2 separate regions of the Homo sapiens genome follow, and region 1 is linked to region 2. Evidence: fine-mapped expression QTL. A gene starts in region 2. The other region holds a variant in brackets. All regions are shown on one strand. Distances are between the middles of the regions.

Region 1 (10,564 bases), 32 kb after region 2:
TTTATATTTTAACCCCTCCACAAACATGTGTCAGCACATACATTTAAAAAAGGAACTAGAAGGATGCACATCAAATAGCTGAGGATGGTTACGTTTGGGCATGGGAGAGAGAAGAGTAAGGGCAATGTCCCACATGTTGCTCTGTATATTTTTGTATTGTTTGGATCTTTTACAATAGAAATTACTTTGGTTATAATTTTTTTCCTGCTCAGATGTTACTTCTCAGGTTATAAAAATAATTTTTAATATTAAATATTACACGAATAAACAAGATATATAGCAATACAAGGGAATGAGTGGGAGGTGTTAAATGAGTTGTGCTAACAGAGCTAAAGGAGCCAACGTGGGGAAAAACTATAAAAGTCCTTGTAGTTGCAGAGGGCACAGGCAGCTTTGTGGAGGAGGTGAAACTTGAGCTAGATCTTGGAGTGGGATTTTTAAACAAGTGAGAAAGGAGGTGAAGGCAGAGGGCCAGATGTTTGGGAAAAATGAATGGACTGATTTGGCTAAAGTAAGGGATTTGGCCAGAGACTAGAGAGAGGTGGCTGGAGAGGGAATTAAGGGCTAGTTGTAGGCCGGGTGCAGTGGCTCACGCCTGTAATCCCAGCACTTTGGGAGGCCGAGGCGGGCGGATCACGAGGTCAGGATATCGAGACCCATCCTGGCTAACACGGTGAAACCCCGTCTCTACTAAAATTACAAAAAATTAGCCAGGCGTGGTGGCGGGTACCTGTAGTCCCAGCTACTCGGGAGGCTGAGGCAGGAGAATGGCGTGAACCCAGGAGGCGGAGCTTGCAGTGAGCCGAGATCGCGCCACTGCACTCCAGCCTGGGCGACAGAGCGAGACTCCAGCTTAAAAAAAAAAAAAAAAAAAAAAAAAAAAAAGGCTAGTTGTGAAGAACCTTGAATGTCAGACTAAGGCAGTGGGAACACATTGCAAGTTTCTAAGCAAAAGGATGACACAGCATACTGCACTGATGTATCAGCAGACTCGAACAGTGTGGTGAAGGTGGAAGGCTATTGTCTTATCCAGGTCTGAGGCTCTGTTCAGGAACCTGAAGGGGAAGAGGAGTGGAGTAGGAGAAGGTGGTAGTAGAAATGGAAAGGGCAAAACTATTAAACACAATATCCACCCACAGGCAGCACAAGCCCATCTGCACCCTGGAGGGACCAGAGAAGGAGCTTTTTCCTTGGATCAAGTTAGAAGAAATCCAAACAACAGAGAAAGGTGAGATGATTCTTGGAAAGATAGGAGAGTTGGCCCACCCCTGGCTGGAGATACAACTTAATCACAGAACCATTGCTAGAAAAGCCTCCACACTCAAAGGTGTCTCTGTCAGTGTGTAGGAGAAACCCTACCACAGTACCTGGGCTTCCAAGACTCATGGGGCACCCACCATGCCCAGCTTGATTAAAGACAATGGTGTTTATTAATTCATCCATTTGTTCATCAAGGTTGCATGACTATTATGTGCCAAAGAATAAGCAGAACACTGCTCTTTAAATGTTCTTAAGTGTTTATTTATAACAGGTTGTTAATAAAGTAAAAGCCTGAGTTGGCATATATAAATTTGGGTTTAAAATTTGATTTTGGTTGAGACAGGGTCTTGCTGTGTCACCAGTGCGGTGGCGCAAACACAGCTCACTGCAGCCTCAATCTCTCAGGCTCAAGCAATCCTCCTGCCTCAGCCTCCTGAGTAGCTGGGACCACAGGCACGTGCCACCATGCCCAACTAATTAAAAACATTTTTTTTTGGCCGGGCACAATGGCTCATGCCTGTAAATCCAGCACTTTGGGAGGCTGGGGTGGGAGGACTGCTTGAGCCCAGGAGTTTGAAACCAGCTTGGGCAACATAGTGAAATCCCATCTCTATTTTTTTTAAATAAAAGTAAAAATATATATATATATATAATATAAACATATAATTGTATATATATCATATAAACATATATTTATATATATATATATATATATATATATATATATATTTTTTTTTTTTTTTTTTTTTTTTTTTTTCTTATAGAGATGGGGCCTCACCATGTTGCCCAGGTTGATCTCAAACTCCTGGGCTCAAGCTATCCTCCCACCTAAGCCTCCCAAAGTGTTGAGGTTATAGAATTGAGCCACCATGCCTGGCCTGGTGTTGTATTTTCAAGGGTATACATACCCCCAGCTGACTAGATGTTTTCTTTCAGGTATGTTTATGCATATATTCATCCAAGAATGAAGCACTTACTTACTTCCTCCACTCTTCCCCTATGGCTGTTCTAATCAAAGAGGTATCATCCCATAAATGCAAGATTTGGCAAAGACAAGAACAGATTCCCCATCTCCTATCTATAACCTAAGGCCAAGAGTGCCCTTTATTACTATATTCAGAACTCAGAAAGAATTCCTGTGGGTTAGAGCCCCAAGCTAAGCCCTCCAAGCCTTAAAAGTCCTTCTATTCAATTCTGTGCTGGGAGGACCCTGAACGATATATGGGATGGAGGGGTGAAGGTGGAAGTGGGGGGAAGCAGGTGCCAGGCGGACAAGCCCATTCTCAAACCTGCTGCCTCGCCTGGATTGACTGCCAGACAGCTCTCAATATGCCTGGTTTGTGAGGAAGGGTGAGGGAAGGAAGGGTACATGGGTAGAACTGGTCAGCCCTCTGCATAGATAGCCAGGGTTTTGGATTGAGTATCCTCTCTTCTACACCATGTTCAGCTCAGAAGCCGGAAGTGCTCCTCAACTAGAGGCCAGATACTCTCTTCTGCAACTCACAGCCAACATGACACACACAAACAGACACTCATCTTCAAGCCTTGATGGTGAATGGTCTCAACCCAACTTCCTCACATCTACACCTCCAACCACTGCCTTCGGTGGCTTTGCTCCCTTTACCTGACTAAATGATTCCATTTCCTCTGTCCTAACCCTCTTCCCTTTTCTCAGGAATTCAGAGTCATTCTTACCCATACCAGCAATCAGGGTCAGGAAACCCAATCAGAAAGAAAAACTTGAAGAGGAAGGCGGGCATCCGGATCCTATCACTCCCCAGTGACCAGCAAGACACTCTCTCTCCAGGTACTGGGTTGGAAAGTGAGAGAACTGAATTCTGGCTCTCCTACCTTCACACTCTTCAGAACTGGAAAAGAAGCTTTTCTGCCAGGCACGGTGGCTCATGCCTGTAATCCCAGTGCTTTGGGAGGCCAAGGTGGGCGAATCACTTGAGGTCACAAGTTCAAGACCAGCCTGGCCAACATGGTGAAACCCCATCTCTACTAAAAATAGAAAAATCAGCTGGGCATGGTGGCACATACCTGTAGTCCCAGCTACTCGGAGGCTGAGGCAGGAGAATTGCTTGAACCTGAGAGGCAGAGGTTGCAGTGAGCCGAGATCACGCCATTGCACTCCAGCTTGGGCAAGAGTGAGACTCCGTCTCAAAAAAAAAAAAAAAAATTAGCAGGGAGTTGTGGTGTGCACTCATAATCCCAGCAACTCGGAAAAGGCTGAGGCACAAGAATCGCTTGAACCTGGGAGGCAGAGGTTACAGTGAGCCGAGATCACGCCACTGCATTCCGGCCTGGGTGACAGAGACTGTGTCTCAAAAAAAAAAAAAGCTTTTCTTAATAATATTACTGCTGCCCAAAGACATGACTCCCTACACTAAGCAGCAGCAATGGAAGGGGTGTCCCCCAACTCTCACTACCCAACGTGGTATACTACAGATGTCCCAAAAGGATTCCACAGCATCCTAGAAATGGATCCCCAGCCCCCTCCCTGAGTTCAGTGGTTTGACCTACTTTTAGCAGATGCCTAAAAACATCGAATGTACTAAATACATACTTGTCAACTTCCTGCTGTAACCAACCTAGGCGCTTGAACTGGAAGTGGTGTATGCAGTGAATCCCCAGAGCCTTTAGACCTTATACCTCAAGGCTGAGAAACCCACACATACATTCATTCTCTGCCACTGCCCCTATACTCTGCAATGAAGGGGAGGGTTTTGCCCTCCATCCCACCTTAGCCAACCTAAGCCCTTCCACTGGCTTTCTACAGGCTCATTTGGGAAGCTCCCTTGCCCAGATTATCCTGAAGTGGACCCTGGGTCCAAGTCTTCCGCCAGTCCATGACTGATGCTATGCATGTTCTGGAAGATGGGATTGCTGTTTGTCCTAAGAGCTGGGTGCTAAGTATCTACCTCCCAGGTTCAGTCTCCTCTTCATCCCCTATCCCCTCAAAAGAACTGGAAGGCTTCAGCAACTGCCACAAGAGGGCTCCCCTCTACTTCCTTCCTGGCATTCTAAATTGAGTACTAAGGGACAGATGGGAATAGGTCATCCTCTTCCCCAAGTTGTTCAGGGGTCCAAAGACCCCCCAGTGGCCCACCATTCAGCTAAAGTCCTCTCCCTTATCATTATGAGAGGTTGTAGCTCTGAAAGATATCTATTTGCTAATATAGAAATAAAACACCTGGCCGGGCGTGGTGGCTCACGCCTGTAATCCTAGCACTTTGGGAGGCTGAGGTGGGCAGATCACCTGAGGTCAGGAGTTCAAGACCAGTCTCACTAACATGGAGAAACCCATCTCTACTAAAAATACAAAATTAGCCGGGTGTGGTGGCGCATGCCTGTAATCCCAGCTCCTCAGGAGGCTGAAGCAGGAGAATTGCTTGAACCCGGGAGCCCAGGAGGAGAGGCTGTGGTGAGCCGATATCGTGCCATTGCCCTCCAGCCTGGGCAACAAGACCAAATTCCGTCTCAAAAAAAAAAAAAAAAAAAAAGAAGAAGAAGAAAGAAAACACTTGGGAAAGATACTCTTATCAGCACCCTGTCACCAAGCAGAACTTTGGAGAAGCCTGGAAGGAGGAAAGTGTCATCTGATCTTGAGGAGTAGGTGGGTAATGTTCAAAGTCATTGGGATTGATAAGACATGTCTGGTTGGAGTAGTTTGAGAGTTATATATGGGTGGAAGCACTGGTCCTTGAGGGTGATGGCCTATTAATAATAGAAGTGCTGAAAAGGAAAATTGGCAGGGGAGGCAGCAGGGAAGTAACTGAATATAAATTATATGCTTCACACTGGTACTTGGGGCTCTCAAACTTATTATATGCCTAAATCCTATCCCTTTCCCACAAAAGCAGGCTGGGAAGACCTCTGTCCTCAAAGCTTAAGAAAATATTAAGATTGGGGAAGGCTTGCCTGGCTCACCCAGACCTCACCCACCCTAAAGGTAGCACCATCCCTTTCTTTGCCTGGAGCC[A/G]GACACTGGTAGCAGGGGAGGAACAGAATAGTGGTGGGAGTGCGATGGGAGGATGGAGGCTTTATGGAAAAGGTCTATTCCTCAAGACATTTGTGGGATCTCTGGATGAGGCTTGGCATCCTGACAATGAAAAACCACACGCCTGAAGTAGAGCTGATGCAGGGCCATCAGTTGTAAGAAGGATTAAGGTCATTACACTGCCCAGACGTTTATCCTTCATGTTTATTCACTGCCAAAGTCCAGAACTAGACTAGTGAGGGGGTCTCTGTTCAAACTAGAAGCACCTCATGTGCAAGGCTGAGGAGATCTGAGAGTAGAGGCACATGGGGCCCTCCAAGTTCAGGGCCCTTCAGCCAGTGAAGTCCATACAGTCTACCAACAGGTGAGAAATACAGCTGATTTCAGGTTTAAACCCTTTAGAACTAGAGGAGGAAAGTCACGAAGCCCTCACACTCTGATGCCCAATTCATTTGGGCTCCCCCGCCGCGGGGTATGATGGGAAGAAATAACCAGTGTGGAGTGGCACTAAGTTCCTCCATAACCTTACTCTCTATCAATCAAGTGTGCCTTTTACCCCTTTGCTGAAAGAAGGAGCACTATGGAGAGAGGGACCAGAAACAGGACTCCCCTCACCATGAAACTACTGTCCCACGGCTGCTGCACAGCAAAGATGAAGGTCGGCTCCAAAGCTGCATAAAACAAGTTTAATTTCCAACCAGGGTCACAGTCATCGCGTTATCCCACATTTTGAGCAAGGATAGAGAAGGTGAGTTATTAAACATATACAGTCTACATTCCAGAGGAGGAACTGCAGTTACCACTATAACACCACAGACAAACTTTGGGGTGGGGGGAGCGGGAGTCCTCAGGAAGCAGAAAGCTGGAATCAGGGAAAGCATAAAATTAAACCTACCAGAGAGGAGAGGAGAGGGAGTGGGCAGAAATGGAATGAAACACCCAATCCCAAAAGAGCTGTTAAGTGAATGGGAATGTAGAAAGGACCACCCCTGCCAAGGGCTTAGCAGCCAGGGATACTACCAAGATCACTTACTGCCCCCTGCTGGACAGATCTGGGGCAGCACCAAGGCAACCTCCTAACATTTCCAGCCCCAGATTGGTCCCTGGAGCCCCCAAAAAAACAAGGTGAGGGGTGAGGCCTGAAGTGAGGAAAACCTATTTAGGACTGACATCTAACTAGAGAAAGTCAGGGAATGAGGCAGGAGAAGAGGCAAAGTCCTCATGAACCACAAAGATAGAGTGGAAAATCCTAAGTAGGAAAAAATACATGGAAAAGGGCAAATGAGCAACAGCAGTGAATGAGTTGAGATTGAAAAGGAAAGAGTTCAAGGAAGGAGAGGCAATGGGGCAAGACAAAATAAATCTGAGGAAACAGAGCAAATAAAAAGTATGGAGGGAAGCATCTGTGGGGCCAGGGAAATGAATACATTTTTAAATGAAATAGAACCTCCAACACCCCCCCCACAACCACCACACACAAACACACCCACACCCATATACACACACACTCACACACACACACAGGCCTAGAGAGCAAGATACCTGCACACACCTGCTGCATCCTGGGTAACACATCACTAAGTAACTGGCACTGAGGGAGATACCCCTGGAACCTCTCTTTCACAGTTCAATCTTGGATGGGGTTACTAATATTGATCCATCTGCTATCAACAAAAGTGGCCAGGAAACCTGGCCCCATGGAGTGGGGCTTGGGACAGCCCTACTGGGAAGGGGTCCCTCAGCCATGCTGTGGGGGGCCCTGGGCCCTGACCTTAGCAGGTTATGGGCAGCTGTCTCGGAGCTCAGGGCGCAGCCAGCACACACAGGAGCCCACAGGACAGCCACGTCTTCACAGAAACTACAGAAGTCAGGACCCAGGCGAGGACCTCAGGAACAAGTGCCCCCTGCAGACAGAGAGACGCAGTAGCAACAGCTTCTGAACAACTACATAATAATGCGGGGAGAATCCTGAAGACCACTGCATCCCACAAGCACTGACAACCACTTCAGGATTTTATTTCCTCCACTCTAACCCCCAGATCCATTTATGAGAAGTGAGTGAGGATGGCAGGGGCATGGAGGGTGAAGGGACAGCAAGGATGGTCTGAGGGCCTGGAAACAATAGAAAATCTTCGTCCTTTAGCATATCCTGGACTAGAAAACAAGAGTTGGAGAAGAGGGGGGTTGATACTAAGGTCAGCTATGTCACCCCACTTCCCAGCTCCTCATTAGAATACCCAGTCAGCCCTGGTCAGGCCAGTAGGAGTACTAGGGTGAGAAAATTCTGACCAAGGACAGATGACCCATCCAACCCCTAAGATCAGAAGGGTGGTGGGGCACTGGAAGGCAGGAATGGGATTGGCCCATGCCTCACCTTCTCCTAATAACAAAAGAGAATGAAGATGGAAAACCTCAGGCCTTCGCCTCCCTTCCCCCAATGCCCTGGGTCCCTAACACACACCATGGACTTGCCATCCCCACCCCCCAGTCAAGCTCCAGAGGAACAGATCTGAAGATGGTGGGGAAGGATCAGTTGAACACTCTAAGCTGATAAGAGTGAGTGGGTTCCTCTCTCCTTCCCAACAGTAAGGCAGAGCAGAGTGGCATCTCCTTGGGAACAGTCATCTAGAGATAAATGCCATCCTCCAGCCCTAAGAAGGGTGGAGAGAAGAGTACAAGGAAAATGGTGGTGAAGAATCCATCATCTGTCCTATCATCCAGAAAAACCTACCTGCAGAGAGGAGGGTAACCAGTCAAAGACTGGGGCAGTCCGGCTTGACTAATGCCCTCCCACCTTCTTCCCTTAATCTCACCAACACGGAAGGGGCAGATGACAGGCTCCAGTGGGCAGTGTCCTGGCTGCAAGCCCTGAGCTTCACTCCACCCCCTCCCCGCTCCCCCCGGCCCCCACAAATATATCTCTCTATACATGTATATACAGGCGCACACATGCACGCAAACACAGAGAGGCCCGTGCAATTTCCATGTAAAACAGGGAGAGGGTGGCAAAGGAAAGGCAAACAGGGAGTAGAAGGGCTTGTGGGGACAGGGAAAGGACTCAGATGCCAAGAGGACAGCAACCACTGCCAAACAAAGAGAATACCCCACTCGACCTCCCGAAACCCAGAGGGTGAGAGAGAGAGGGGCCACCCCATGAAACCGTAACAACTTTTTGTTTTAAATCCAGTAAATTGGAATGACTCATCATCAGGACAGCAATTAGGGATTGGTCATATAGGTGGACAGGAAAAAGGAGGGGAGGCAGGGGAGGCAAGGCTCTTGCTGGGCATGTGGACATGATACCCAGGGCCCTGGCCACACTTGCATGGAGAGGAAGGGGTAGGACTGGGGCAGGGTGACAGTAGGTATGTCAGGGGTGGGTGGGGTGCTTTGTTAGGGCTGTCTGGCTTTCACTTCTTGTTTTTGAGCTGATTGGCCAGCCAGTCCAGGCCTTCGTACAGCCCGTCCCCGCTGGTGGCACAGGTGGCCTGAATGTACCAGTTACGGTGACGAAGGGAATGCAGGCCCAGCTTGTCTGTGATCTCAGCAGCGTTCATAGCATTAGGCAGATCCTGGAGCACGTGGGAGACACATAAAAAGAAGCCTCAGGATTTTTTAAAGGCTTCTAGAACACCCATCTACCAAAGAAATGTGTACCAGCACCTTCCCCTCCTCCTTTATTTTAGGAAACCCAGAACAAGATCCTAAGGAGCTACTTTGGATTTAGTCACCTAGAACTCAAGATCCAAAGCACTAGAGGTCACTGTACTGAAGAATTGGAAACCAAATACGAGGATGGTGGGGAAGCAAGAGACGTGATTCAGACTGACCAAAGAATCAGGTCTGTCTGACAGCAGGAGTGAGGCCAATTCTCCTAAAGTAGATAACAGGCAAGATGAAAGAAAGATTTGAGACAATTCCTGAGGACTGAAATGTTGCTAAATAAAGCTTGGGGTGGGGCACAAGAAGAGGGGCATAAAGAAGCCAAGTGCTCAGTTTCCCACGCTTCTAACATTGAGAGCATACTAAAAGGGTTAACCATATAATAGGCCCAAGAGCCAACAATTTCCACAGCCAGTTTGCTGTCTCCCAAATTCAGGGGTGGGAAGAAGTCTCACCTGTTTGTTTGCAAAGACAAGGAGTACAGCATCCCGGAGCTCGTCCTCCGCCAGCATTCTCATCAGCTCTTCCCGGGCCTCATTTACTCGCTCCCGATCATTGCTGTCGACCACAAATATCAACCCTAGGAAGGCAGAGCATGGGCTGCACTAAGATGACAGGTAACCCCCTCCCCCCAACCAAAAGACCACACCTGCCTGACACCCTCCAAATATTTGCTCCCTTTCCTCCCTTTCTTCTGCCCCCAGGAGCTGCAGCAGGGTAACAGTTGGCCACCCATTAACAAAGACAGCCACACTCTCTGCTCATACCCAACCAACCCACGCTAGGCCTGAGCATACCTTGGGTGTTCTGGAAGTAGTGTCTCCAGAGGGGTCGAATCTTGTCCTGGCCACCCACATCCCACACTGTAAAGCTGATGTTCTTATACTCCACTGTCTCCACATTGAACCCTTTGGAAAAAAAACAGGCAATGGCCACTTGGCCTCAAACACTAGCCCCGCAAACACCACCACAATGAGTTTGGTTCTGCTTTCCCCCAGTGGTGGCCATAACACCAACAATGGAACAAAAGCTAAGGCTTCCTCAGACCTGATAATCGTTAAGCTAGCAGCCTGAAGGCCAAAATGAAAACCTAAGAGAAGTCAAAGAGGATGAGGAAGTTGGTTGAGAGGTTCACAGTTGCCTGGGTAACGTGGGCCAACTTTCCTGACTTTTCCACTCAGTCTTTGGTGCTCCCTCCTACAAAATGACTCAGCCCTGCTCTGGTACTTTGGCTACCAGAGTCGGCCTCAGCTAAGATGTGGGGCCTGAGAGGCAGAGTGAAGAAAGGGAAGTAAGCTGGCATCCTGGAGCCCCAAAGGCAGAGCCAGCTGACAATGCTGACTGGAGCCCCCATCTACATAGCAAATGTAGGGAGACCTCCCTTCAGCAAACTGTAACCAAGATTGGCCACCAAAGATCTAAACCCAAGTAATTCCAAGCCTTTGGCAGGAACATCAAAGCCTTTTACCTGCTTTCCAAACAACACAGAGAAGAAACCAACTCCGTGCCTGAGGGCAGCTGTTGAGTGCCAGGCCATGGAAGTTCCCGCATCAGGGAGAGCCAGGTTAGGTGGGCAAACAGCAGCCTCAGCACCTGGTAGTAAGCTAAACAACACCACCCTCTTTTCTGAACCCCACA
Region 2 (10,564 bases):
GAGCATGGATCTTGTCTTTTTTTTTTTTTGAGCATGGATCTTTAGAAGACTGTCTATGTTCTGAATCAGTGTTCAATACATAGGGCTGTTTCTTCCACAGCCAGGATTCATAGGTCCAGGAATTAAAGGATGGAAATGGGAATAGCACAATGCACAATTACCACTAGAGACCCCTGGCCACTTTGGGATCCTCAGGGCTCTGTGTCGGCAGGCGAAGAAAGAAGTTACTGTGCTGGCTGGGGTGATTGATCCTAACTAGCAATGAAAAATTGGAGGCCGGGCATGGTGGCTCATGCCTGTAATCCCAGCACTTTGGAAGGCCAAGGCAGGCAGATCACCTGAGGTCAGGAGTTCACGACCAGCCTGGCCAACATGGTGAAACCCCATCTCTACTAAATACAAAAATTAGCCAGCCATGGTGGCGCATGCCTGTAATCCCAGCTACTCAAGAGGCTGAGGCAGGAGAATCATTTGAACCTGGAAGCCAAAGGTTGCGGTGAGCCGAGATCATGCCATTGCACCTGTAATCCCAGCTACTCAGGAGGCTGAGGCAGGAAAACGGCTTGAACTGGGGAGGCGGAGGTTGCAGTGAGCCAAGATCGCACCACTGCACTCCAGCCTGGGCGACAGAGCAAGACTCCATCTCAAAAAAAAAAACAAACAACAACAACAATAAATAAATAAATAAAAATACAAAAATTAGCTAGGCATGGTGGCGCACACCTCTATTTCCAGCTACTCAGGAGGCTGAAGCAGGAGAATCGCTTGCACCCAGGAGACCAAGGTTGCAGTGAGCTGAGATTGCACCATTGCACTTCAGCCTGGGTGATAGAGTGAGACTCCGTCAAAAAAAAAAAAAAAAGAAAAAGAAAAATTGGAATATTACTTCACAATGGAGGTAAGTATGAGCATATCAAGGAGATTCCTTGATATACTAAGGAAGATTCCTTAGGTCATCTCAGTATTACTGTGACCTGTGATTAAGGTCAATGGAAAACTAGAACAAAACAATCCAGGACTACTAATGGCCCAGACCCTTCAGAAATGAAGCTTTGAGTCAGTCCATCAGGTAAAGAAACAGGTCAACACCTGTTAAGGTGCTTGCTGAAGGCAAAGGGAATAGGATAGTAGTAGAAAACGGTAGCTATTAATACCAGCTATGACCACGTGACCAGTTATGGACCCTAGGACTATGATTGCCATGAGTATTTCCTCATTTTGTTATTTATATGTTTATGTGTGTGTATATCAAGCAAATATCTTCATTTTCTTTTCTCTTTTATTCCCTCATAATGTAACATAAGATGTATTAACTTTATGTCATAGTTTTAAGTATTATTAATTTTGCATCATAATATCTGAGTTATGGGATATGAAGAAGAGTAAACATCACTCAAGGATTTTACCTCCTCTTCTGAGGAAGGGATTAGTGTTTTATTTTTCTTTTTGAGACCGGGTCTTGCTCTGTCACCCAGGCTGGGGTGCAGCATCAATGCAAAGCTTCGAAATGCAGGCTCAAGTGTTCCTCCCACCCCAGCCTCCTGAGTAGCTGGGACTACAGGTGTGTGCCACCATGCCCAGCTAATTTTTTTTTTTTTTTGAGACAGAGTCTTGCTCTGTCGCCAAACTGCAGTGCAGTGGCACAATCTCTGGCTCACTGCAACCTCCGCCTCCCGGGTTCCAGCAATTCTCCTGCCTTAGCCTCCAGAGTAGCTGGGACTACAGGCGTGTGCCACCACGCCCAGCTCATTTTTATATTTTTATGAGGGGTTTCACCATGTTTGCCAGGATGGTCTCGATCTCTTCACCTCGTGATCCGCCCGCCTCGGCCTCCCAAAGTGCTGGGATTATAGGCGTTAGTCACTGCGCCCGGCCTGTAATGGTTAATTTTATGTGTCAACCTCACTGAGCCACGGAGGGCCCAGACATTTGGTCAAACATTAATCTGGAGGTCAGGCACAGTAGCTTGTGCCTGTAATCCCAGCACTTTGGTTGGCTGAGGTAGGAGGATCGCTTGAAGCCAGGAATTTAAGACCGGCCAGGGCATCATAGCAAGACCCAGTCGCTACAAAAAAATTAAAATAAAAAAAAATAGTTGGCTGGGCACGGTGGCTCACGCCTGTAATCCCAGCACTTTGGGAGGCCAAGGTGGGTGGATCACCTGAGGTTAGGAGTTCCAGGAGTTCGAGACCAGCTGGCCAACATGGTGAAACCCCGTCTCTACTAAAAATACAAAAATTAGCTAGGCGTGGTGGTGGATGCCTGTAATCTCAGCTACTCCGGAGGCTGAGTCAGGAGAATTGCTGAAACCTGCGAGGCGGAGGTTGCAGTGAGCCAAGATCATGCCATTGCACTCCAGCCCAGGCTGACAACAGCAACAGCAAGACTATGACTAAAAAAAAAAAAAAACACTGAGTATGGTGGTGCACACCTGTAGTCCCAGCTACTCAGAAGGCTGAGGTGGGAGGATCCCTAAAGTCCAGGAGTTCGAGGTTGCACTGAGCTACAATTGCATCACTGTACTCCAGCCTGGGTGACAAAATGAGTTTTCTGTCTAAAGAAAAATAAACAAAAAAAAATTATTCTGGTTTTGTCTGTGAGGGTGTTTCCAGATGAGATTAATATTTGAATTGGATTGAGAATTAATTAGTGGTAGATTGAGTAAAGCAGATTGCCCTTGTAACATGGGTGAGCCTCATCCAATCATTGAAGACATGAATAAACCAAAAAGGCTGAGTAAAAGCAGCTCCTCCTGACTAACTGCCTAAGCTGAGGCAGTCTTTTCTGGCCTTCTGACTCAGACTGAAACTCAGACTCTTCTTGGACCTTGAGCTGGCTGGCTTTTAGTCTAGAACTACACATCGGTTCTCCTAAATCTCCAGGTTGCTAATTGCAGATCTTGGGACTTCTGAGCCTCCAATAATAACACCGATTGCTTATAATAAATAAATACACACATCCTATTGGTTCTGTTTTTCTGGAGAGTTCTGAGTAATGTATTATATTTCATATTTAAAACAACTTTATTGGGGCACATGTTGCATATCACATAATTCGCTTTTTTTTTTTTTTTTTAAATACGGAGTTTCGCTCTTGTTGCCCAGGCTGGAGTGCAATGGCACGATCTCAGCTCACCGCAACCTCCGCCTCCTGGGTCCAAGCGATTCTCCTGCCTCAGCCTCCTGAGTAGCTGGGATTACAGGCATGTGCCACCACGCCCAGCTAATTTTGTCTTTTTAGTAGCGATGGGGTTTCTCCATGTTGGTCAGGCTGGTCCCGAACTCCCGACCTTAGGTGATCCAACATGGTGAAACCCCATCTCTACTAAAAATACAAAAAATTAGCCGGGTGTGGTAGCGGGTGCCTGTAATCCCAGCTACTTGGGAAGCTGAGGCAGGAGAATCACTTGAACCTGGGAGGTGCAGGTTGCAGTGAGCCGAGACTGTGCCACCTCACTCCAGCCTGGGCAACAGAGAAAGACTCAGTCAAAAAAGGAGAGAGAGAGGGAGAGGGAGAGAGAAAGAGAGAAAGAAAGGAAGGGAAGGGAAGGGAGAAGAAAAGAAAGTAATCTACTTTCTGTCTTTATAGCTTGGCCTTTTCCGGATATTTCATATAAATGGAACCATACAATATGTAATCACTTGTGTCTGGCTTATTTCACTGAGCATAGGGGTTTTTTTGGCCGAACATGGTGGCTCACGCCTGTAATCCCAGCACTTTGGGAGGCCGAGGTTGGTGGATCATTTGAGGTCAGGAGTTTGAGACCAACCTGGCCAAGATGATGAAACCCCGTCTCTACTAAAAATACAAAAATTAGGCAGGCATGGTGGTGACACCTGTAGTCCAGCTACTCGGGAGGCTGAGGCAGGAGAATTTCTTGAACCCGGGCGGTGGAGGTTGCAGTGAGCCGAGATCACGCACTGCACTCCAGCCTGGGTGACAGAGTGAGACTCCAGTCTTAAAAAAAAAAAAAGGGTTTGTTTGTTTTGTTTTTGTTGTTGTTTCTTTTTGATACAGGGCTGCTCTGTCACCCAACTGGAGTGCAGTGGCTTGACTATGGCTTGACCTCTGGGGCTCAGGTGATCTTCTCACCTCAGCCTCCTGGGGTAGCTGGGACAACAGGTACGCACCACCACGCCCAGCTAACTTCTTTTGTATTTTTTGTGGAGAAGGGGTTTCGCCACATTGCTCAAGCTAGTCTCGATCTCTTGGGCTAAAACGATCCTCCCGCCTCGGCCTCCCAAAGTGCTGGGATTACAGGTGTGAGGCACAGCGCCCAGCCTGCATATTCTTTTTGAGGTTCATCCACATTGTAGCTGGTATCCATAGTTTGTTCTGAATAATATTCCATTGTATGGACATAGCATATTTTGTCTACTCATTCACATGTTAATGGACATTTAGGTTGTCTCCAATTTTTCCAACTGGGCTATTATGAGTGAGACAGATAAGAAAATTCCTGTGCAAGTTTTTGTGTGTATACATGCTTTCATTTCTCTTAGGCAGATCCCTAAGAGTGAAATTATTGGGTCACATGGTAAATTTATGTTTAACATTTTAAAAAATTGCCAAACTGTTTTCCAAAGTGGCTACACCATTTTACATTTCTACCACCAATATATGAGGGTTCTCGTTTCTCCACATTCTCTCCAACACTTATCTTTTTAAAAAAGGTTTTTGTTGTTGTTGTTGTTTGCAGTTTTTACAGTTTTATTTAAACAGAAAACATACACATGAGCTGTCTACTCATTTTCTTTGCTGCGCAGCCTGGGATTGGGGTTGGTGACTCTGACGGCCAGCTGGGCAGCTCTTTTCCACGATGGCTTTGCGGTTCTTGGAGGAAACATTGTGAGCGATCTCAGCACAGTAAGATTTGTTGCACAACAGCAGCACTTCCAGCTCCTTGACGTGTGGACCAGGAATTTCCGGAAGCCACTGGGCAGCATGTGCTTTGTTTTCTTGTTGCTCCCATAATCAATGTTGGGCATCAAGATCTAACCCTTGAACCTTCCACGAACCCTGTTGTCAATACCTCTGGGTTTCCGCCGGTTACGCTTAATTTTGACATATCGGTCAGACTGGTGCCGGATAAACTTCTTGGTTCTCTTTTTGACGATCTTGGGCTTCCCAAGGGTTCTGAGGACGGTTTATAAAAGTGCACTGAGGGGAGGCTGAGACAGGAGAATTGCTTGAACCCGGGAGGCGGAGGTTGCAGTGAGCCGAGATCGTGCCCATCCTAGGCGACAGAGAGAGACTCTATGTCAAAAATAAATAAATAAATAAATAAATAAATAAATAAATAAATAAATAAAATGCACTGAGGAGACAGATTTTTGAGAGTTAAAAGGACCCTCTCAAAAACCGACCGCGGTCCTCCACTGGGTAGGGGGCGCTCCAAGACAGGGACTCTTCTAGCCTGTTGCCTCTCCATGTTAGCGATATCCTCGTTGCTAGGAGACTAGACGCGTCTTACAGTGGGAGAGCTCAGCCTCACTGATAGCCGGGGATCTCTCCTGTTCGAGGGCTGAGATCTCCGGTCCCACAACCGCCCACAACCAGGGGCACTTCTGGAAGTCCCCTTTCTAGGGACATTTTTCTTCTAAGCTCTGTAACGCGGGCCGAGGCAGACCGAGGCTTCTTTCCCGGATCCAATCCCCTGCCCCCATGCCTAAGAAAGAAAAAATGGCCAAGACGCCCCTGTCCGATGAGAAGCAGCTGCTTCTGTTTCAGCAGAAGTTGCTGGCAGAGGAGGAGATGGCCAAAAAGAAGGAGAGGCTCCTCAGCCAGTTCTTGAAGGTGATGGCCTTTTGCATTATGTCCTGCTCAACCCCATCCACCCCCTGCCCTGGCCCTGTCACTGAGGAAACCTCATTTTCATCCTGACCTCCCCTCCTCCGGAAATCCTGAGACCCAGATATACTTAGATTTCAGGCAACATTGTTTGGGAGGCGGGGGTGTTCTCTGCGAAGCACGGAGGGGGTGCGTGGTATACGGCTTGGCAATCTTTACTGAATCCCAGAACTGGGACCGTAGGTCCTGTCAGCTGTTCCAGCTGTCTGGAATGCTGATATTCTCCCTGGAGATAGGTCATTACAAACAACATCCTACTCTGATGCTCCCACCCTGAAGGAAATTCACCCTTGCCCTCCCTAAATGCCATCAGGCCGTTCCCATCGAAAAGGGGTAAGGTGTCAGCTGATAAATTAAGAGTGATCTTGTTTGTTGTACTGAAAGGCCCTGACTTCCTGGAGGTATATTTATTCCTTCACACAGGACAAGCTGGCCAAGGAGGAACACAACAGTGCTCTGAACCTTAATAAGATTAACACACAGTGGAGAACTGTCCTTCGGGAAGTCAAGACCAGAGAACTTCATAAGGACATTGAGATCCTCAGCCAAACATTTGAACGAGTGGTGGACTGTAAGGACAATGTCATCAAGGTAGGCACTCTTTCCAAGGAAACCTTGAGTATGGCTTCCTGACCTCTTAATAGAATGAGCCTAGTGAATCCATCTTAAAGCCCTCACAAGACACAGGCTGTGAGAAAGCCAGGCTATTGGTAATAATGGTTTTCACAGAAATAAAAAATAGAATATTGGGCTTTCATCCCTCTCTCCCTTAGAGGACCCACTCTTCTTGTCATCTATTGCCCAAAACCAGTACTATCCAATAGTAGAGTCATAAGGCACAGTAGACATCACCCAGTGACTTGAAATGAGTCCCACACCTTCATTTCAATGTCAGAAGGCTCAGTTCCAGAGGGGAACTGACTTGCCCAAGGTCACATAGCTAGTCAGTGAGAGAACCAGGACTCCAGCATGTGTTTATTGATTCCCACTGCAGTGCTCCATTCAACTAAATTGTTTGGCCTCTTGATTCAACTTCAGTGGCCCTGGATAAGGTTGAGAAGATCTCCATGGGTAAGAGCAGTTCTGGATTTCTAAGCAATTCAATCAGCCATCCTTATGCTCTTGGGAGGTTCTTGAGTTCTTGATTCCATCCTATCTTTTCTTCTAAGGGATTTTCTGTACCCCTTCTTTTGTCTTACTTTTAATATTCTGCCTCCATTTACTGCCTTCTCCTTAGTCTTTTCCATTATTTATTTATTTATTTATTTGACATGGAGTCTTGCTCTGTTGCCAGGCTGGAGTGCAGTGGCACAATCTCGGCTCAGTGCAACCTCTGCCTCCCAGGTTCAAGTGATTCTTCTGCCTCAGCCTCCCGAGTAGCTGTGACTACAGGCATGTGCCACCATGCCTGGCTAATTTTTGTATTTTTAGTTGAGATGGGGGTTTCACCATGTTGGCCAGGATGGTCTCGATCTCCTGACCTTGTGACCCACCCGCCTTGGCCTCCCAAAGTGCTGGGATTACAGGCGTGAGCCACTGCACCCAGCCAGAGTCTTTTCCATTTTCAACAAAACAAAGCCCACAGTAACAGCAAAATATACATTGCCAACATGGTATTCCCCCTCTAGAAAACACACATTTCTCTTTCATAGCCTAATCCCTGGGGAAAGAGCTCAGCAGACCCTGGGCAGCTTCCAGAGATAAATATTAAGAGTCCTCAAATTTGCAATAACCATTATTCATTAGAAGTCCACATACCCCACCAGTTACACCTTATGGATTTTTTTTTTTTTTTTTTGAGGCAGAGTTTCACTCCTGTTGCCCAGGCTGGAGTGCAATGGCGCAGTCTTGGCTCACTGCAACCTCCGCCTCCCGAGTTCAGCCTCCTGAGTAGCTGGGATTACAGGCATGTGCCACCACGCCCACTAATTTTGTATTTTTAGTAGAGATGGGGTTTCTTCATGTCGGTTAGGCTGGTCTTAAACTCCCGACCTCAGGTGATCCGCCCGCCTCAGTCTCCCAAAGTGCTGGGATTACAGGCATGAGCCACCACGCCCAGCCACTGAGGAGTTTCACTCTTGTCACCAGGCTGGAGTACAGTGGCGCGATCTCGGCTCACTGCAACCTCTGCCTCCTGGGTTCAAGCGATTCTCCTGCCTCAACCTCCTGAATAGCTGGGATTACAGGCGCCCACCACCAAGCCCAGGTAATTTTTGTATTTTTAGTGGAGACGGGATTTCACCATGTTGGCCAGGCTGGTCTGGAACTCCTGACCTTAGGTGATCCACCTGCCTCGGCCTCCCAAAGTGCTGGGATTACAGACGTTAGCCACCGCGCCCAGCCCATACCTTATGGATTTTTAAGAGGCTTTTTCAGACACTTATTGGAAGTTATCAAACACTTGATAAGAGGGCCAGGCACGGTGGCTCAAGCCTGTAATCCCAGCACTTTGGGAGGCTGAGGCAGGCGGATCACGAGGTCAGGAGATCGAGACCATCCTGGCTAACATGGTGAAACCCCATCTCTACTAAAAATACAAAAAATTAGCCAGGCGTGGTGGCGGGCACCTGTAGTCCCAGCTACTCGGGAGGCTGAGGCGGGAGAATGGCGTGAACCCGGGAGGTGGAGCTTGCAGTGAGCAGAGATTGTGCCACTGCACTCCAGCCTGGGTGACAGAGCGAGACTCCGTCTCAAAAAAAACAAAACAAAACAAAAAAACACTTGATAAGAACAGCAGTGTTCATTGCCTAGTGTTCCATTATTGGAATGCTAAGTTTGTGGGAGTTATGTATCTCGTACTGTTCAAGGTCATCGCCAAGATCTGATTTTTCACAAAAAATATTTGCAACCTCAGGCATGAATGGGTTAAGGGAAGCTGAGTAGTTGGCCAGGTTCACCCCGAGACAATTAACTTCTTCCTACACAGCAGCCTTGCAGCTTATGATAACAGTTCTTGCTTAGGTAAATCACACACTGTTAATATTAACCACCTTCAGGGTCATTCCTGAATGAGACTACACATATTAAATGTGGAAATGTTAGTGATCCTCACTATCTCTACTTCTTCACTTCCATTTTACCCTGTATCCCACAGCATCTGATTTCTACCCTTCTCTAGGAAACTGCTCAGGTAAAGGCCACTGGTTCAGAATTGTGGCTACTTTTCATCATTTAGTCTTTATCTAACCTAACCTCTCTATGGCACTGACATTCTTGGTCATGCCCTGGGTCTTGAAATTCTCCTTTGGCTTGCATGACACCATTCTGTCATTTTTCCTACCTCTGGGACATAAATCAGTCACTCCAGTGAGTTTATCTTCCTCTCTCCATCCTCTGAACTTCAGCATTCCCCGGATTTCTGAGTCTGGCCATCTCACCCTTTAACCAGTTTTCTAGGGCCAATCTTACACATTACCCTGGCTTTATTTTATTTTATTTTTTGAGACAGAGTCTCACTTTGTTGTCCAGGCTGAAGTGCAGTAGCACAATCATAGCTCACTACACTCAAGCTCCTGGGCTCAAGTGATCCTCCCACCTGAGCAGTTGGGACTACAGGCTCTCACTATGACTGGCTAAATTTTTAAATTATTTTAATTTTTAGTAGAGACAAGGTCTCGCTGTGTTGCCCAGGCTGATCCTCCCACCTCACCCTCTGGAGTAGCTGGGACCACAGGAGCATACCACCTCACCTAACAAATTTTTAAATTTTTTATAGAGATGCAGTCTCGTTATGTTGCCCATGCTGGTCTTGAACTCCTGGCCTCAAGCAGTCCTCCCACTTCGGCCTCCCAAAGTGCTAGTATTACAGGCATGAGCCACTGGGCTCGGTCCATCCTAGATTTTGCATCTATCCCTGACCTTTGTTACTAAGTGTTGTATAAGTCGTCTACTTTAAAGTAGTTTTCAAAGCTATACCCTGCTGTCCTTTTCCACTGTCCTCCTGTAGTTGAGACCTGGGCATCATCTCTAACCTACACTATTAGTAATAGTTTCCTGTTTTCCACCCTTCACATTGAACTGCCTCTAGATTCTCTGCAGAACTACCAGGATTATTATTATTATTATTATTATTATTATTATTATTATTTATTTATTTATTTTATTTTTAGACAGAGTCACCCAGGCAGGAGTGCAGTGGCACAATCTTGGCTCACTGCAACCTCTGCCCCCCGGGTTCAAGTGATTCTCCTGCCTCAGCCTCCTGAGTAGCTGGGATTACAGGTGCATGCCACCACATCCAGCTAATTTCTGCAATTTTAGTAGAGATGGGGTCTCACCACATTGGCCAGGCTGGTCTCTAACTCCTGGCCTCAGGTGATCCACCTGCCTCGGCCTCCTAAAGTGCTGGGATTATAGGCATGAGTACCAGGATTATCTTTCTAAAGCAGAAATCTAATCCTGTCACTCCACTGTTTAAATCTTAGTGGTTCCCCCATCTACAGGAAAAAATCCAGACTCCATAGTAAAAACATCAAAGCCCTCATGATCTGGTTCCCACCTGTACTTTTCTTTCTCTTTTTTTTTTTTTTTTTTTTTTTGAGATGGAGTTTTGCTCTTGTTGCCCAGGCTGGAGTGAAATGGCGCAATCTCGGCTCACCGCAACCTCCACCTCCTGGGTTCAAGCGATTCTTCTGCCTCAGCCTCCCAAGTAGCTGGGATTACAGGCATGTGCCACCACGCCCAGCTAATTTGGTATTTTTAGTAGAGACGGGGT

Evidence for each region.
Region 1: its variant is fine-mapped to the expression of DRC2 in gastroesophageal junction (GTEx, PIP above 0.99).

The regions. Positions count from the first base shown.
Region 1 is chr12:48,930,274-48,940,837 of GRCh38, forward strand. ARF3 (ARF GTPase 3) reads right to left here. Exons shown (of 5, transcript NM_001659.3): 3 at 9,724-9,834; 4 at 9,382-9,506; 5 at 5,450-8,835. The coding sequence ends at 8,674. It also overlaps a transcript of FKBP11 not described here. Among named protein-coding and RNA genes, the nearest start is that of FKBP11, 10 kb to the left of the region's middle. RefSeq lists a silencer at 6,216-6,405. The variant A/G (reference allele first, on the strand shown) is at 5,246.
Region 2 is chr12:48,898,673-48,909,236 of GRCh38, forward strand. DRC2 (dynein regulatory complex subunit 2) reads left to right here and starts at 5,461. Exons shown (of 8, transcript NM_033124.5): 1 at 5,461-5,796; 2 at 6,274-6,441. The coding sequence starts at 5,665. It also overlaps the pseudogene RPL32P27. RefSeq lists silencers at 2,740-2,940, 5,418-5,467.